Regions from separate parts of the Homo sapiens genome. Here region 2 is linked to region 1. A link means that fine-mapping ties the variant in region 1 to the expression of a gene that starts in the linked region. Tissue or cell type: spinal cord. Region 1 holds a variant in brackets; the other region holds the start of a gene. All regions are shown on one strand. Distances are from middle to middle.

The links. PIP is the estimated chance that this variant, and not a neighbour inherited with it, causes the effect.
Region 2: AATF starts here. The variant in region 1 is fine-mapped to the expression of AATF in spinal cord (GTEx, PIP above 0.99). The same link has a PIP of 0.9 or more in amygdala, hippocampus and substantia nigra.

Annotation. Positions count from the first base shown.
Region 1 is chr17:37,073,338-37,081,443 of GRCh38, reverse strand. No RefSeq gene overlaps it. Among named protein-coding and RNA genes, the nearest start is that of MIR2909, 44 kb to the right of the region's middle. The variant G/A (reference allele first, on the strand shown) is at 3,593.
Region 2 is chr17:36,945,100-36,953,205 of GRCh38, reverse strand. AATF (apoptosis antagonizing transcription factor) reads right to left here and starts at 4,252. Exons shown (of 12, transcript NM_012138.4): 1 at 3,990-4,252; 2 at 2,801-2,992; 3 at 1-320. The coding sequence starts at 4,080.

The sequences.
Region 1 (8,106 bases):
CATGAAGAGGAAATGCCAGAGGGCCCAGTAGAAAGTAAAAGCCAGGGCAGATTTCAAAACTGCTGAAATGTTTTAATATGTAGCCCCCACGCGCGCGTGCATACACACACACACACACACCAACTTATCAGCAGAAGATAGATGCCTTGCTGGCTCAAGATACATCTGCCTAAAGCATTGGCTGACCATTAGGCACAAGGGTGGCCCCTATGAAGCTAGGCTTAAAAAATAAGAAGTTTTAAAAAGAAAAACTGAGCAGAGGCTCGGTGTGGTGGCTCAATTCCTGCACTTGGGGAGGCTGAGGCGGGTGGATCACTTGAGGTCAGGAGTTTGAGACCAGCCTGGCCAACATGGTGAAACCGTCTCTACTAAAAATAAATTAGCTGGGTGTGGTGGTGTGCGCCTGTAATCCCAGCTGCTTGGGAGGCTAAGGCAGGAGAATCGCTTGAACCCGGGAGGTAGAGGTTGCAGTGAGCCAAGATCGTGCCACTGCACTCCAGCCTGGGTGACAGAATGAGATTCTGTCTCAAAAAACAAACAAATAAAAACAACTGGGCAGAAACTTAAACACACATACACACACACACATTTACAGAATTAAAGGGTCAGGTAGGACAACCTTGGGCCCTTATTTAAAAAAAAAAAAAAAAAAAAAGAATTGGCCAGGCATGGTGGCTCACACCTATGATCCCCAGCAATTTGGGAGGCCAGGGTGGGCGGTTCGCTTGAGTCCAAGAGTTTAAGACCAGCCTGGACAACATGACAAAACTCCATCTCTACAAAAAATGCAAAAAAAAAAAAAAACTAGCCAGGTGTGGTGGCACACGCTTGTCGTCCCAGCAACTTGGGAGGCTGAGGTGGAAGGATGACCTGAGCCCAGGCAGGTAGAGGCTGCAGTGAACCATGATCACGCCACTGCACTCCAACCTGGGTGACAGAGCAAGACCCTGTCTCAAAACAAAACATAAAAAAGCACATTCTGAATAAAATTCTGAAACATGCTGCAACATGGATGAACTGTGAAGACATTATGCTAAGTGAAATAAGCCAGACACAAAAACAGATATTGTTTGATTCCACTTATATGTGGTATCTGAAATTATCAAATTCACAGAGACAGAAAATAAAACAGTGATTACCAGGGGTTGTGGGGAGAGGAATTTGGGGATTACTGTTTTCGTTTTTAGAGACAGGGTCTCGCTCTATTGCCCAGGCTGGAGTACAGTGGTATGATCATAGCTCACTACAGCCTCAAACTCCTGGGCTCAAGCAGTCCTCCCACCTCAGCCTCCTGAATAGCTGGGACTACAGGTGCAAGCCACTATACCCAGCTAATTTAAAAAAAAATTTTTTTTTTTTTTTTTTTTTTGTAGAGACAGGGCCTCACTGTGTTGCCCAAGCTGATCTTGAACTCCTGGGCTCAAGCGATCTTCCTTCTTCAGCCTCCCAAAGCACTGGAATTATAGGCATGAGCCACTGTAGCAGCTGGGAGTTATTGTTGTTGAATGAGTACAGAGTTTCAGTATGGGATGATGAAATGTTCTGGAGGTGGATGGTGGTGATGGTTGCACAACAATGTGAATGTCCTTAATGTCACTGAACTATACACTTAGAAACTGTTAAAATGGTAAATCATATATTTATCCCAGTTTTTGAAAAGGAAATTCTGAAAAGTTGACCAGAGGGACTACACAGATTTGGGAAGACAGAAGAATCAGTGCATGTGAAATCGTAGAGTAATAGAATTATCCAATGTGAAGAACAGAGAGGAAAAAAGAGTGAAAAATGAATAGACCCTCAGACTCCTGTGCAGCAACAGTGCGTTTACCAACATATGTGTACTGGGGGTGCCAGAAGAGAGAGAAATGGAAAAACTATCTGAAGAAATAGTGGCCGAAAAATTCCCAAATTTGATGGAAAACATGAATCTGCAGATCCAAGAAGCTCAATAAACCCCAAGTAGGATAAACAAAGATACTTACACCTAGATACCTCATGGCCAAACTGTTGAAAGACAAAGAAAAATCTTAAAGGAAGCTAGAGAAGAACAAGTTATCACTTACAGAAGAATAACAAAATAAATCACAGCTGCCTTCTAATCAGAAACAATGGACCCCAGGAGGCAGTGGGGCAGTATTGTCAGAGTGCCACAAGAAGAAAAAAAATGCTGTCAAACAAGAATCCTATATCCAGCAACACTGTCCTTAAAACAAGTACAGGTGAAATAAAGACACTCCACAAAAAAAGAGAATTCATTGTTAGCAGACCAGCTTTATAAGAAATACTAAAAGCAATAGTTGAGGCTGAAAAGAAATAATTCCAGATAGTAATTCAAATCTACTCAAAGAAATGAAAAGGTAAACAGTACCTAGGTAAATATAAAAAACTGTGTTCTCTTTAACTTCATTAAAAGACATAAAGTTGCATTAAACAATAAGTATACCACTGTATTTTGGGGTTTATAGCATATAGAACCGTAATATGTATGACAGTCACACAAAGAAGGGGGTAAAAATGAAACAACATGAAAACCAAGTCTATGTGTTGCCAGTATTAAGGTAATATTAATCTCAAGTATAGTGTTATATAACCTCTAGAACAACCACTAAGAAAGTAACTTTATTTATTTAGAGATGGAGTCTTGCTCTGTCATCCAGACTGGAGTGCAATGATGCAATCTCGGCTCATTGCAACCTCCGCGTCCCGGGTTCAAGCAGTTCTCCTGCCTCAGCCTCCTGAGTAGCTGGGATTATAGGCGCCCACCACCATGCCCGGCTAATTTTTGTATTTTTGGTAGAGACAGGGTCTCACCATGTTGGCCAGGCTGCTCTCAAACTCCTGACCTCAGGTGATGCACCTGCCTCGGCCTCCCAAAGTGCTGGGATTAGAGGCATGAGCCACCGCACCCAGCTGAAAATAACTTTAAAATGCATAGTAAGGCTGGCAGCAGTGGCTCACACCTCTAATCCCAGCACTTTGGGAGGCTGAGGTGGGAGGATCACATGAGTCCAGGAGTTTGAGACCAGGCTGGGCAATACAGTGAGACACTATCTCTACAAAAAATTTTTTTAAAATTGGCCAGGCATGGTGGCACATGCCTCTAGTTCCAGCTACTTGAGAGGCTGAGGCAGGAGGAGCACTGGCTCAGGAGGTTGAGGTTGCAGTGAGCTGAGATCGCACCACCGCACTCTAGCCTGGGCAACAGAGCAAGACCCTGTCTCAACAACAAAAGGCAAAGGGCTTAAACCCATTTTTTCAAAGATGATTTATGAATGGTCAAGAAGCATATAAAAACATGCTCAGCATCATTAATTGTTGGGGAAATGTATATTAAAACCGCAACGACACAACACTTCATACCCATTAGGACGTCTGCTATAAAAAACAAACAGAAAATAACATGTTGCAGACGATGTGGAAAAATTAGAACCCTTGTGCACTGTTGGCAGGAATAGAAAATGGTGTAGCTGCTATGCAAAAATGGTTCCTCAAAAAATTAAAAGTAGGGCCGGGTGTGGTGGCTCACACCTGTAATCCCAACACTTTGAGAGGCTAAGGTGCCCAGGAGTTCGAGACCAGCTTGGGCAACACA[G/A]TGAGACCCTCATCTGTATAAAAAATTAAAAAATAAAAAATTAGCTGGGTGATGGCACGTGGCTGTAGTCCCAGCTACTTGGGCAGCTGAGGTGAGAGGACTGCTTGAGTCTGGGCAACACAGCGAGACTGCCTCAAAAAAAAACAAAAACGAAACGAAAATGAAAAATAGGAGGCTGAGGTGGGAGGACTGCTTAAGCCCAGGAGTTTGAAGTTGCAGTGAGCTATGATCAAGCCACTACGCTCTAGCCTGGGCAACAGAGTGAGACCCTGTCTCAAAAAAAAAAAAAAAAAAAAAAAAAAAAGCACTACGTATGATCAAGCAATCTCACTTCTGGGCAGATATCCAAAAGAATTGAAAGCAGGGCCTTGAATATATATTTGCACACCCATGTTCACAGCAGCATTATTCACAATAGCCAAGAGGTGAAAGCCACCCAAATGTCCATCAAAGAATAAATTGATAAACAAAATGTGGTCTATACTTACAATGGAATATTACAACGGCCTTAAAAAGGAAAGCAATCCAATCACATGCTAGAACAGGAATAAACCTTGAGGACATTCTGTTAAGTGGAATAAGCCAGTTGCAAAAAGACAAATACTGTAGGATTCCACTTATATGAGGTATTTAAAGTAGTCGAATTTTGCTGGGTGCAGTGGCTCATGCCTGTAATCCCAGCACTTTGGGAGGCCAAGGTGGGTGGATCACTTGTGGTCAAGAGATTGAGACCAGCCTGGCCAACATGGTGAAACCCCATCTCTACTAAAAATACAAATGTTAGCTGAGCATGGTGGTGCATGCCTGTAATCCCAGCTACTCGGGAAGCTGAGGCAGGAGAATCGCTTGAACCCGGGACGTGGAGGTTGCAGTGAGCCGAGATCGCATCACCGCACTCCAGTCTGGTGACAGAAACTCTGTCTCAAAAAAATAAATAAATAAAAAATAAAGTAGTCAAATTCATAGAAACTGAAAGAATGGTGGTTGCCAGGGGTCGGAGTGAGGGGTAAACTGGGAATTGTTAAATGGGTATAAAGTTTCAGTTTTGTGGGGTAAGAATTTCTGGAAATCTGTTGCAGGACAATGTAAATATACTTAACACTATTGCATTGTACACTTAAACATGGTTAAGATGGTAAGTTTTATGTTTTCTTAGCCACAATTTAACATGTATGTATGTAAATATATATATATTAAAAACAACACTGGGGCTGGGTGTGGTGGCACACATCTGTAACCCCAGCATTCTTGAAGCCAGAAGTTTGAGACCAGCCTGAGCAACAAAGTGAGACCCAGTCTCCAGAAAAATTAAAAAAAAAAAAATAGCCAGGCGTGGTGGCATACACCTGTAGTCCCAGCTACTCAGGAGGATCTCTTGAGCCCAGGAGTTCAAGGCTGCAGTGAGCTGTAATCGCATCACTGCTCTCCAGCCTGCAGGATAGGGTAAGACCTTGTCTCTAAAAAACACAAAAGCAAGCAGTAAAGGAAAAACAAATGAACCTTATTAATAATTACATTAAATTTGAAAGGACTAAACACTCCAATCAAAAGATAGACTGTCAGATTAGGTGAAAAAATCTAGGCTGGGTGTGGTGGCTCTTGCCTGTAATCCCAGCACTTTGGGAGGCTGAGACAGGCAGATTGCTTGAGTCCAGGAGTTTGAGACCAGCCTGGGCAACATAGGGAGACCTCGTCTCTGCAAAAAATTAAAATACAAAAAATTAGCCAGGCATGGTGGCATGCACCTGTAGTCCCAGCTACTCGGGAGGCTGAGGAGGGACAATCACCCAAGCCCTGGAGGCTGAGGCTGCAGTGAGCCTAAATCACACCACTGCACTCTAGCCTGAGTGACAGAGTGAGACCCTGTCTCAAAAATAATAATTAAAATTTTAAAAAAACAAACAAAATGCCTGTTACTCCTGCCTCAGCCTCCCGAGTAGCTGGAACTACAGGTGTGTACCACCATACCTGGCTAATTTTTTTAATTTTGTGGAGGCTGGGTCTTAAGTCTTTAAGAAAAACACTTTAGATTCAAAGACACAAGTGGGTAAAGGTATAAAAACACCATCTACTATGCAAACAGTAACCATAAGGGTTGGAGTGGCTACATTAATATCAATATCAATATCTATATCTATCTATATGTATATATATAATGTCATTAGAGACAAAAATAAACATTTATTATGCTAAAAGAATCAGTTTGTCAGGAAGCTATAACAATTATAAATGTATACATGTTTAACAACAGAGCCCCAAAATACAGAAAGCAAAAATTGACAGAATAAAAAGGAGAAATAGACAACAGGTCTGGATCTGGATCAATAAACTTCCACCCCAAAAAAACAGAGAAGAAAAAAGAGGAGAATAAACTAAACCCAAAGCAAGAAGAATAAGGGAAAACATAAAGGTCAGAGTGGAAACTAGTGAAAGAGAAAACAGTAAACAACAGAGAAAAGTCAATAGAAACTTAAAGTTAGCTCTTTGAAAAAAATCAGGCTGGGCCCAGTGGCTCACACTTGTAATCCCAGCACTTTGGGAGGCCGAGGTGGGTGGATCACGAGGTCAAGAGATCGAGACCATCCTGGCCAACATGGTGAAACCCCGTCTCTACTAAAAATAGAAAAATTAGCTAGGCATGTTGGTGGGCGCCTGTAATCCCAGCTACTCGGGAGGCTAAGGCAGGAGAATCACTTGAACCCGGGAGGCGGAGGTTGCAATGAGCCGAGATCGCACCACTGTATTCCATCCAGCCTGGGGACAGAGTAAGACTCCATCTAAAAAAAAAAAAAAAAGAAAAGAAAAGAAAAAAACAATAAAATTGACAAGAAGAAAAAGAGAAACAACACAAATTTCCAAAATCAGGAATCAAAGAGGGGACATTGCTAGTGGCTCTACCAAAATTAAGATTATAAAGAAATATTATGAGCAACTTTATGCCAAGAAATTAGACTTAGGTAAAATGAACACATTCCTAGAAAGACCCAAATTTACCAAAACTGACTTGAGAAGAAACACACAATCCAAATAGACCTATAACAAATAAAGAAATTAGTCACTAAAAATCCTCCCACAGGCCAGGCACGGTGGTTCACACCTGTAATCCCAGCACATTGGGAGGCTGAGGTGGGGGAATCACCTGAGGTCAGGAGTTCAAGACCAGCCTGGCCAACATGGTGAATCCCCGTCTCTGCTAAAAATACAAAAATTAGCCAGGTGTGTTGGTGCACAACAGTAATCCCAGTTACTTGGGAGGCTCAGGCGGGAGAATGGCTTAAACCCGGGAGGCAGAGGTTGTGATGAGCCGAGATCATGCCACTGCAATCCAGCCTGGGCAAGAAAGTGAGACTCAGTCTTAAAAAAAAAAAAAAAATTCCCACAAAGTAAAGCCCCAGTCCCAGAAAGCTTCACTGGTAAATGCTCTGTCAAATATTTAAAGAAGAAATAACAGCCAGGTGCAGTGGCTCACGCCTGTAATCCCAGCACTTTGGGAGGCCAAGGAGGGCGGATCACGAGGTTAGGAGTTCGAGACCAGCCTGGCCAACAAGGGGAAACCCTGTCTCTACAAAAAATACAAAAATTAGCCGGGTGTGGTGGTGGGTGCCTGTAATCCCAGCTACTTGGGAGACTGAGGCAGGAGAATTGCTTGAACCCGGGAGGTGGAGGTTGTAGTGAGCTGAGATCACGCCACTGCACTCCAGCCTGGGTGACAGAGCAAGACTTCATCTTGAAAAAAAAAAAAAAAAAAAAGAAATAATACTGGTCCTTCTCAAACTCTCTTAGAAAACAGAAGGAACACTTTCCAACTCATTCTACAAGGCCAGTATTATCTGATACCAAAGCCAAAGACATCACAAGAAAACTACAGGCCAGTATCCCTTGTGAACACAGGATGCAAAAATCCTTAGCAAATATTAACTAACTGGGCCAGGTACAGTGGCGTGCATGTAGTCCCAGCTATTTGGGCAGCTGAGGCAGGAGGACTGTTTGAGCCCAGGATTTTGAGGCTGTAGTATGCCATGAGCATATCCTTAAATAGCCACTGCACCCCAGCCTGGGCAACGTGGCAAGACTCCATCTCTTTAAAAAAAGAATTAGCAAACTGAATACAGCAAGACACACCCACACTTTTTTTTTTTTTTTTTTGAGATGAGGTTCTCACTCTGTCATCCAGGCTGGAGTGCAGTGGCATGATCACAGCTCACTGCAACCTCCACCCCCAGGTTCAAACAATCCTCCCACTTAAGCCTCCCACCATCTGGGTGCGCACCACCACACCCAGCTAATTTTTGTATTTTTCAGTAGATATGGGGTTTCACCATGTTGGTCAGGCTGGTCTCGAACTCCTGACCTCAAGTGATCCACCCATCTTGGCCTCTCAAAGTGCTGGGATTATAGGCGTGAGCCACTGTGCCTATCCTAGCAATATATAAGTATATAAGTATATATATATTTATATTATATATAAATTTTATTTCTTCTAAAAAAAAAAAACAGGATACGTGTGCAGAATG
Region 2 (8,106 bases), 130 kb after region 1:
TCTATCTCCAGCCCTGTCTTCCTCACTCTCGCCTTGGGAGTCTTCCGCGTCATCCCCTTCTTCCATGCCACTCTCTTCGTCTTCCTCCTCCTCACTGCTCCCAAGGTCATCCATTCCCTTGGTAAATTTCTCAAAGTCACTGATACTCTGGACACTGAAGCCCGGTGTTTTTGCAGAGTGGCTTCTGCTCTTCTTGCTCTCCCTGTGATCACCACACTCCTGTTCCTCAGCAGCACCCAGGTCGTCCTCATCATATTCCTCCAGACCCAGTCCCTCTGAATCTTCATCTCCAGACCCTTCCTCATCAGATATTTCCTCATCTACAAAGAAGAGAGGGAAGAAAGAGAAAAATGGGTATTACCTGGAGAAAATACCAAGCCATAGACTTCATTTCAACTTAAGCACTGTGGCATCAGGGGGAAAATCTCTTACTGCACTCAATTCAACAATATATTTATTACACATCTACAATCTCCAAAATGCTAAGGGAGAAGCAAAGATGAATAGAACACGGGTCCTACCCTAACAAAAGGAGCTAGTGGGAAAGACAGACTCACAACATTACAACTCAAGGAAGCATCAGAAGTGCTTTGACAAAATTTCAATAACCCAGAAGAGTGAGAAATTTTAACTGTGGGGCAAGTGAATTTAAGCTAATCTCTAAGGAAGAGCTAGCATTTGCTCTGGCCCTTGAAGAACAGTAAGATTTCAACTGGTGTTAGAGAATTACCAGTTTTCCCAAACCTGATCTGAAAAAATGTACAATCTATCACATCCGTCTGCCCTATTTACTAAATACTTATTAAGCACTCATTATGAGCCAGGGGCTAAGGAAAGGCAAATAGAATTTAATACTTGCTGGGAGGAGTTCATGGTCTGGTGGGAGTGGTAGATATGCATGCCAATAATTATATTACAAGGTCATTAGTACACAGTGTATGGAGATGGAACCACCTAACTCTCCTGGAAAGGTGGGGGATGGTATCATGTGGAGAAGGAGACATTATAATTTTACTTATGAAGCATAAGGCAACAGCTCATAGATAATGAAGGGAAAACGCACTGGAGTGCAGGATGCACAAGGAAGTGATGGGAGATGAGACTAATCAGGAAAGGTCTCGTCTTTCATGAGGACTCTGAACTTGATCCTATAGTAGACAGAGTGCTAGTTAAGGCTCTTTGTTTGACTTATGCTTAGAGTATCATCTGATATGTAGAGGTTTTTACAGTTTATCCAATCTGTTCCATGGTAGAACATAAAAGCCCCATGTGTTTCAAGTATGATTCTAAGATAGAGGGACCAGTTTCCAAAAACTTTCTTCAATAAAATAAAGATTTTAGGAAAGCGTGACAGGTCTTCAGCGCTTCTTTAAAAAGGTATATATAAACTTAAGACACAAAGCTGCCAAAAATATAAATACAAAAACTAAGTGCCAAAACAGTAAACAGAAATTATTATTTAAATTCTTTGAATGTACGCCATTTCTCAGATTAAGAAACATTCATACAGAGTTTACTAGAGTGTACATCTTGGAGTCAGACAGCCTACATTTGAATCATGTTTCTTCCACTTACTAACTATATGACCTTGAGCAAACTTATGTAACCAATTTGCCCCTCGATTTCCTTATCTGTAAAATGGGGCTAAGTAGTAATAACTTCCTGCGCAATTGGGAGGATTAAATTAGGTGACACATGTAGTGATAATGGTGATAATTTTTTATAAAAATCTGTCTAATTCCAGGTAATTTTATAATTTTTTTTTTGAGGACTTACTGTGTCCCAGGCTCTTAGAACTTAAATTATAGAGCTAAACTCAGTGCCTGACGCATGGTAAGAACTCAATAAATATTATCATATTTGTCTCATGATTGGTCCCTTTATCAGTCTCTAGGCAAAGAATATGAAATGAGCTTATCAGGAGCTCCCAGAACTACATCAAGGACTAAATCATAGATATCATAACCTAAATGATAGTTCCTTTTATATTATCTGTGGATTCTCAACATGACACCCCTGACCTTTCTAAAGGAAAACAAATGACATTCTCCCAATAATCACCATATCTAGCCCCTTCTTCCACTCTGAGAAATTTACAATTCTTTAAAACTATAAGCGCACAGACTCCTAACTCTTTTGCAGGGAAGAGAAGGATTATGTGATTTTTTAGAATGGCAAAAAATGAGTTTCACAAATAACTAATATCACACAGTGCTTCAATGCAAGTCCTGGAAAACCAAAGGTCAGGGGTCACAATTCAAGGATAACATGTTCATCAGACACAGTGGTTTTTCAGCTCATAACCCTCTCCAGTAGCCAAAATGCACTGCCTTCTCTGTCACTCCACTGTAGGGTGAGCCATTAGTCCGAACATAAGGAGTATAGCAACTTAATCACTCTGGGCTTTAGATTCCTTATGAAGTGAAATGAAGTAACCTCTAAGACCCTTTCTAATACCAAATCAATGGTCTCTCCTAAGATAACAGATAGGGGTGCCTGACCAACATGGACAAACCCCGTCTCTACTAAAAATACAAAATTAGCCGGGCGTGGTGGTGCATGCCTGTAATCCCAGCTACTCGGGAGGCTGAGGCAGGAGCCTCGCTTGAACTCCAGAGGTGGAGGTTGCGGTGAGCCGAGATGGCGCCATCACACTCCAGCCTGGGCAACAAGAGCCAAACTCTGTCTCAAAAAAAAGATCCGCAGACTACTCTTGCAAAGATCATGGGGGATGACCGGAGGATTTTAACCCTGAAAAAATTAGGGAAGAGAAGAGTTCCATTCAAAAATGTCTACTCACCAGACGATCCTGGCAGAGTCTGCTCCCAATGGTCTTCATTCCATGCTTTTCTAGAGGTGGTTTTGCCGCAATACCTTTTGTCCGTGTCCAAGAGGGAGGCTGATGCCAGTTTTCTAATGCTACCCACTACTAGGAAATCACCTTCCCCATCTTCCCCTTCATCAAACCTGTCAATCACCCTGGCAGCAGTGGCTGTCGGGGGAGAGGGAAAAGTAAACAGAATCTCCAGGTTAGCAGAAACTTTAACGGGAACCCTGGTCGACCCATTTATCTCATAGTTGAACGTCCTTTACGAAATCCCCACCAACTTCCAGGAATAGGAAATTCACTCTCTCCCAAAGTAGAACACTGTCTTACTGCTGTTTCTAAACAGAAAGTTGACTCCTGGCATCTACTAGTGGGATCTATTTCTATGACTTGGATCCTATCAAACTAGTTGAATTCCTCTTCAATGTGTGACAGTCGCTCCAATATCTTAAATCAGTCATCACGTTCTCCCCTCACTCTGTCCCATTCTTTGGGGAGTTTTCTTTGCTTATTCTGGCTAAACAGTCCCGAGTTTCTTCAACTGATCTTCCTAAGATACGGTTCAGCACTCGCATTTATCCCTCCTTATTATCCCTTTCTCACACTTCCGACTCAAGTCTAAAGCGGGATTACTCCCAGCTAGACTCTGAACATCAGCTTACAGAACAGGAGTCTCAGTCGTCAGCCACTGAACAAGTGTCTTGAGACTTCAAGAGACTTAAACAGCACCAGAAAATCCTTCCATCAGTCTCCAACTTAGTTTTGAAGGGCAACCTGAATTAAAAACATGCGACTTTCTTCTCCTCCTTTCTAACGCAATACCAGAAAGGGCATCCTCAAAGCTAACTTCCAACTTGCTAGCAGACTCTCTGGCTCCCTCCAACAGGCCTGGAGCAAGTAAACCTGAAGACCAGCTCCTCTCGGCCTGAGCCCTCGATCTGTTCCGCCCATCCAGCCGAGCACCAAGTTTCGAGTGCGTGTGAAAAGAAGCCGAAGCCCTCCTCCCGAGGCCGGGACCACCCTCGCGGGAGGCGACGTTCCTCTGCGCCAAGCGAAGGAGCGCAGGCCCGGCGGCCTCGCGCACGCCCCTCCCACGCCGCCCCCTTGCCCCACAGGGCCTGGCCCACCGCTCCGCACGTGGCCTGCCCCAGTCCGGCCTCACCTTCCTCGGGGTCCGCTTCAGGGTCCGCCTCGCTTGGTCGCGGGTTCAACAACTGTTCCAGTTGCAGCGCCAGGGGCTGCGGCCCCGCCATCGTCACCAGCTCCCGGTCCACTCCGCTTCGCGCACGTAAATGTGCGGCCCAACCCCCGGCCCCGAAGCTCCTTCCCTGCCGGATCCTCTCGCCTTGATCCGATTCCCCGACTCCGCCAGAGACCGCGCGGAGGCCACCCCACAGCTCTGGACCGGCCACTTCCGGGAGGCGCGCGGGAGGGGGCGGGGCCTGCGCGTCACTGCGGGCGTTGCTAGCATGAAGGCGGAAGCGCGCAGAAGGTTGAAGGGATTGGAGCCGTATGGGCGCGTGTGCGCGTGCGCGTGCGAGTGCGCGGGAAGGGGCGGTGCGGAAGCGCGCCAAGGCACGTGACCGCTTCTGTCGCTGAGATGCGATTGCGATGCGCGCGGCCAGTGTCCCCTTGTACAAAATATGCCTCGAGATTTGTGCGAGATTCGCTTAGGAATAAAGCATAGCGTAGCCGTGGCCCACGGTGGCTGATTTGGGAAGGAGGAGGGAGTAGGGCTTAAGCTGCTCGAATCGCGGGTGCGCACTCGGGCACGCAGAGACTGGGACCCAAAGCAGGTTTGTCATTTCGCAATTTATAGTAGTCTGAGGCCGGGCACACGCCTCCCGCCCTTCAGCGGCCAGGATTTGGGAATCCTATGTCAGGGATATGCACGTGTAAGTGTGTGGCGGACTGCTGGCGTCTTTCTTAATGGGAATACTTAGGAATCGCTGTGGCTAAAGATAGTTTCAGTAGCGTCTCTAAGTACCCTTGCCTGAGCAAGGGAAAGGGGGTGGGGTGTGGATTACTCCACTGCATACCCCTCGGTATTGATTATCTTTGCTGTTCAGAGATGAGGGCATGCTCAGGCAGCTTAAGCAGGTGCACAAATGCAGAAAAATACAGGTCTACCGTTAGAGGGACAGACTCAAAATATAAAGACTTAATAGTATAAATGTAATTGCACCCCGCACACGGAAAGACACAATCGCTTTACATCCTCTTTCCTTCATCAAGCATTCCCTGACTGCCCACTATGTGGCAGGCACTGCTAGATAAGATACAAGATAAGTAAGTTGGATTCTCCCCCCCACGGTAATCAGCCTAGGAGGGTAGACAAACATGTAAACAGAAACTGCAATAAGGGATGATAAGTGTGACTACAAAGTGGTCTATTCTTATGGTATCTGTTGGAGGTTGCCTGTAGAGACCTAGACCCCTCTAAACAGAATCTGCCTCAAAAGGATCCAGAAAAGAGATGTTAGTGGTGCACTGTGGCAGTGCCCCTTGGGTACAGCCCGGGCCAGTTGGATCCCACAGCTGAACAACTGGGGAACCCTCAGCTCTCTACTGTCTCCCATGAAAACCAAGGGAAGAGAGGATCTCTGACTTTCACAATCTTCATATGTCCTCAGGGCCAAGAGCAATAAGAGGACACCACTTTAGTGGAGCCTGTTCCATGTCCCTGTAAAGTGGCCCTTGAAGAATGAAGACAACCAGGGCTGCAGAGGGGAAGGAGAACCTGTCTGAGGGTAAACCCCCTCAGACATGGAAGGAAAAGAATGCCAGGCTAGGCAGGGCACTCAGGAGAAGAAAACGGCTTTTTACCATCCATAAGAGAGCTTAGCCTAAGAGAACAGTTTTTCGTTTATCCTCTATAATTGCAGTCTTGTGCCTGTGTCCGGGCCTCCCAAGCAAAAGTGTGTTCCTTGCTCCTTGACAAGGTGCCATGGGGCTTCAAAGGACAAAAATGTTTCTCCCACCCCACATTTAAGAAACTACCTCCTGCAATCCTATCCCCTTGCTATGTTGGGTACTTACAATGCTTAGAAACCTGGCCTTTGAGGTAAAGAGAAGGAAGAAAAGAGAAAGGGAGGTGAGTCACTGCAGAGACCACCTCTAAGCTGTCATGCAAACAGGACACTGCTGGTCAATTTGGGGGCTGTGCTGGGCAAACACTCAGCAGAAAATGCCATAGACCTGTTTACTTACTCTCCCTTCTCTGTCCTGGTCCCTACTGACTTGGGAAGCCATTTTAGCAAGGAATCAAGACCGTTCTACTGTCACACACATCCCAGGGCCCCCCAAAATGTTTGCCTGACCTTATACTGAAGGTAGAAAGAGGACTCCAGGAGTGGAGGGAAGAGGAAGTAATTCTAGGAATTAAGATGCAACTGAGAGTAGTTGAGGCAAGGGACAGGGGAGCAAATTCTCAAATACTCCCTCTGGGGGCCTCTCCCTACCTGCATTCCAGTGTCTTGAGATGGTGGGGGAAGGGCTTATTGATGGGGTAGGGATGGAGATGGAGAGTGGACTGTGGCGAGGAGTTTCAACCTCTGACTGATGTAGAGATGAGAGCAGATGAGAGGAACAGGGAGAGGAGAATAAGGGTGAGCAGTTCCCTAACAGAATGGCCTTCTCCAGAGAAGGCGGAGGGGCGCCCAGTCCACAATCCCTCTCCCTGCCCTCCAAGGGCTGCAAAGTGGCAGGCGATTAGGCACAGCAGAGGATGGGCAAGGGGTGACACTTTCCAATTGTCCCAAACAACTGTCTGCTCACTTGACAAGGAGTTTCAAGAGTTTGGGAAAACCAAGTTCCCACTTGCCTCTCTTCAGATGCTGTCCACCCTCAGGTGCCAGCCCTGGCAATGCCTATCCTGGCTCTCCACAGGTAATACTTCCCCAAGTGCCTCACCTAGAGCAGCTTACCAGCGGCAGCCAGCCCGGAGAAGTTGGGTGGGTGAGCTTCAGCTCCCTCGCCAGAGCAGATGGTGGCTCCCTGCTGCTGGAACCCTGAAGGCAGGTGGCGAGAGGCACAGAGGTGGTGGCTTTAAGATGGCCACAGGGAGAAACCAGGCTGCCCTCCCAGGCGAGAGGGGACTGCAGTGGCGCTTCCCTCCTGCTGCGCCTCCTGCGGGAGCTCCGCCTAGGTATGGTGCCGCACGTCCCCGCACCTCGGGGCCAGAGGTGGGCGGCACAGCACTGATGGGAAGGAGAACAGGCCCTGACATTTCCAGGCCTCCTCCTTGGGGCCTTCGGCTCCAAATTTGACTGCTGAGCGTTGCCACCTGTTCGGGTTTTCGCCAGGATTCTGAATCCCGCGACGAGGGGAGAGACTGCGCCACAACCACGTTGTTAGAAGAATCGAATCCACATCGTGTGCCCAACTCGAAAACGCTTCTTATCAAATACCCCGATTGCACAATAAAGCTGCTAAATAATTCAGCAGCCTTGATAGGAAAATGCAGCTTCCCAGTGAGCGCAGTTCATTTAAATGAATGTCTTTAAAGGGGGCTAGGGAGTAGAGGCTATAATGAATAAGTTAGCTAGGATTTAATGTGTATAAATGCTAAAAAGGTAAAAACAAGCCGATCCAGTGATTGCATATAAAGCAAATAAAGAAATGTGCTGCATGCAGAGGCTGGGAGTTTCAAAAGTCTCCTCTGTATTTCATACATTTTTATTTCTGAAAGAACACTGCCAGATTCCTCCCGGATAGCCTCCTCCCCCATTAGATAAGCCATCATATGGATGCAGTGAAATATTGCTTATTTTAAAGCCTTCTCTGCAGGAAAGATAAACTTGGCTGTGTCTTAACAAAATTTGAAAACAGCACTGGAAATTATATACCATTTAATGTCAAACCTTTGACTTTTTAAATAAGGAAATAAATAATCCAGAGTGAAATCTAGGTGATATGGAAAAGAAATCCTGGAACTCTAATAGCATCTGATACTGAAACACACACACATCCACAAGAATATTTCATAGTAGATAAAATATTCAAATTTCTTCCAAGTCTAATGAAGGACTGGAAAGAATCGAGCTACTTTTAGAACCTTTTGAGTTGAAATTTGATTTTGATATTAGTTATTTTTGTTCATCTTTCAGAGAAACTTAATATGTATCTTGTGCCAGGCAAAATAGTTTTCCTTCTGGGGAACTTCAAAGGTAACAAATACTATAAAACAACAATTTCATATCAGTTCTGTGAAAGGGATTAAAGTATTTCATTTCTAGCTGTACTATACATTCATTTTACATTATCTTTCAAACCACCAA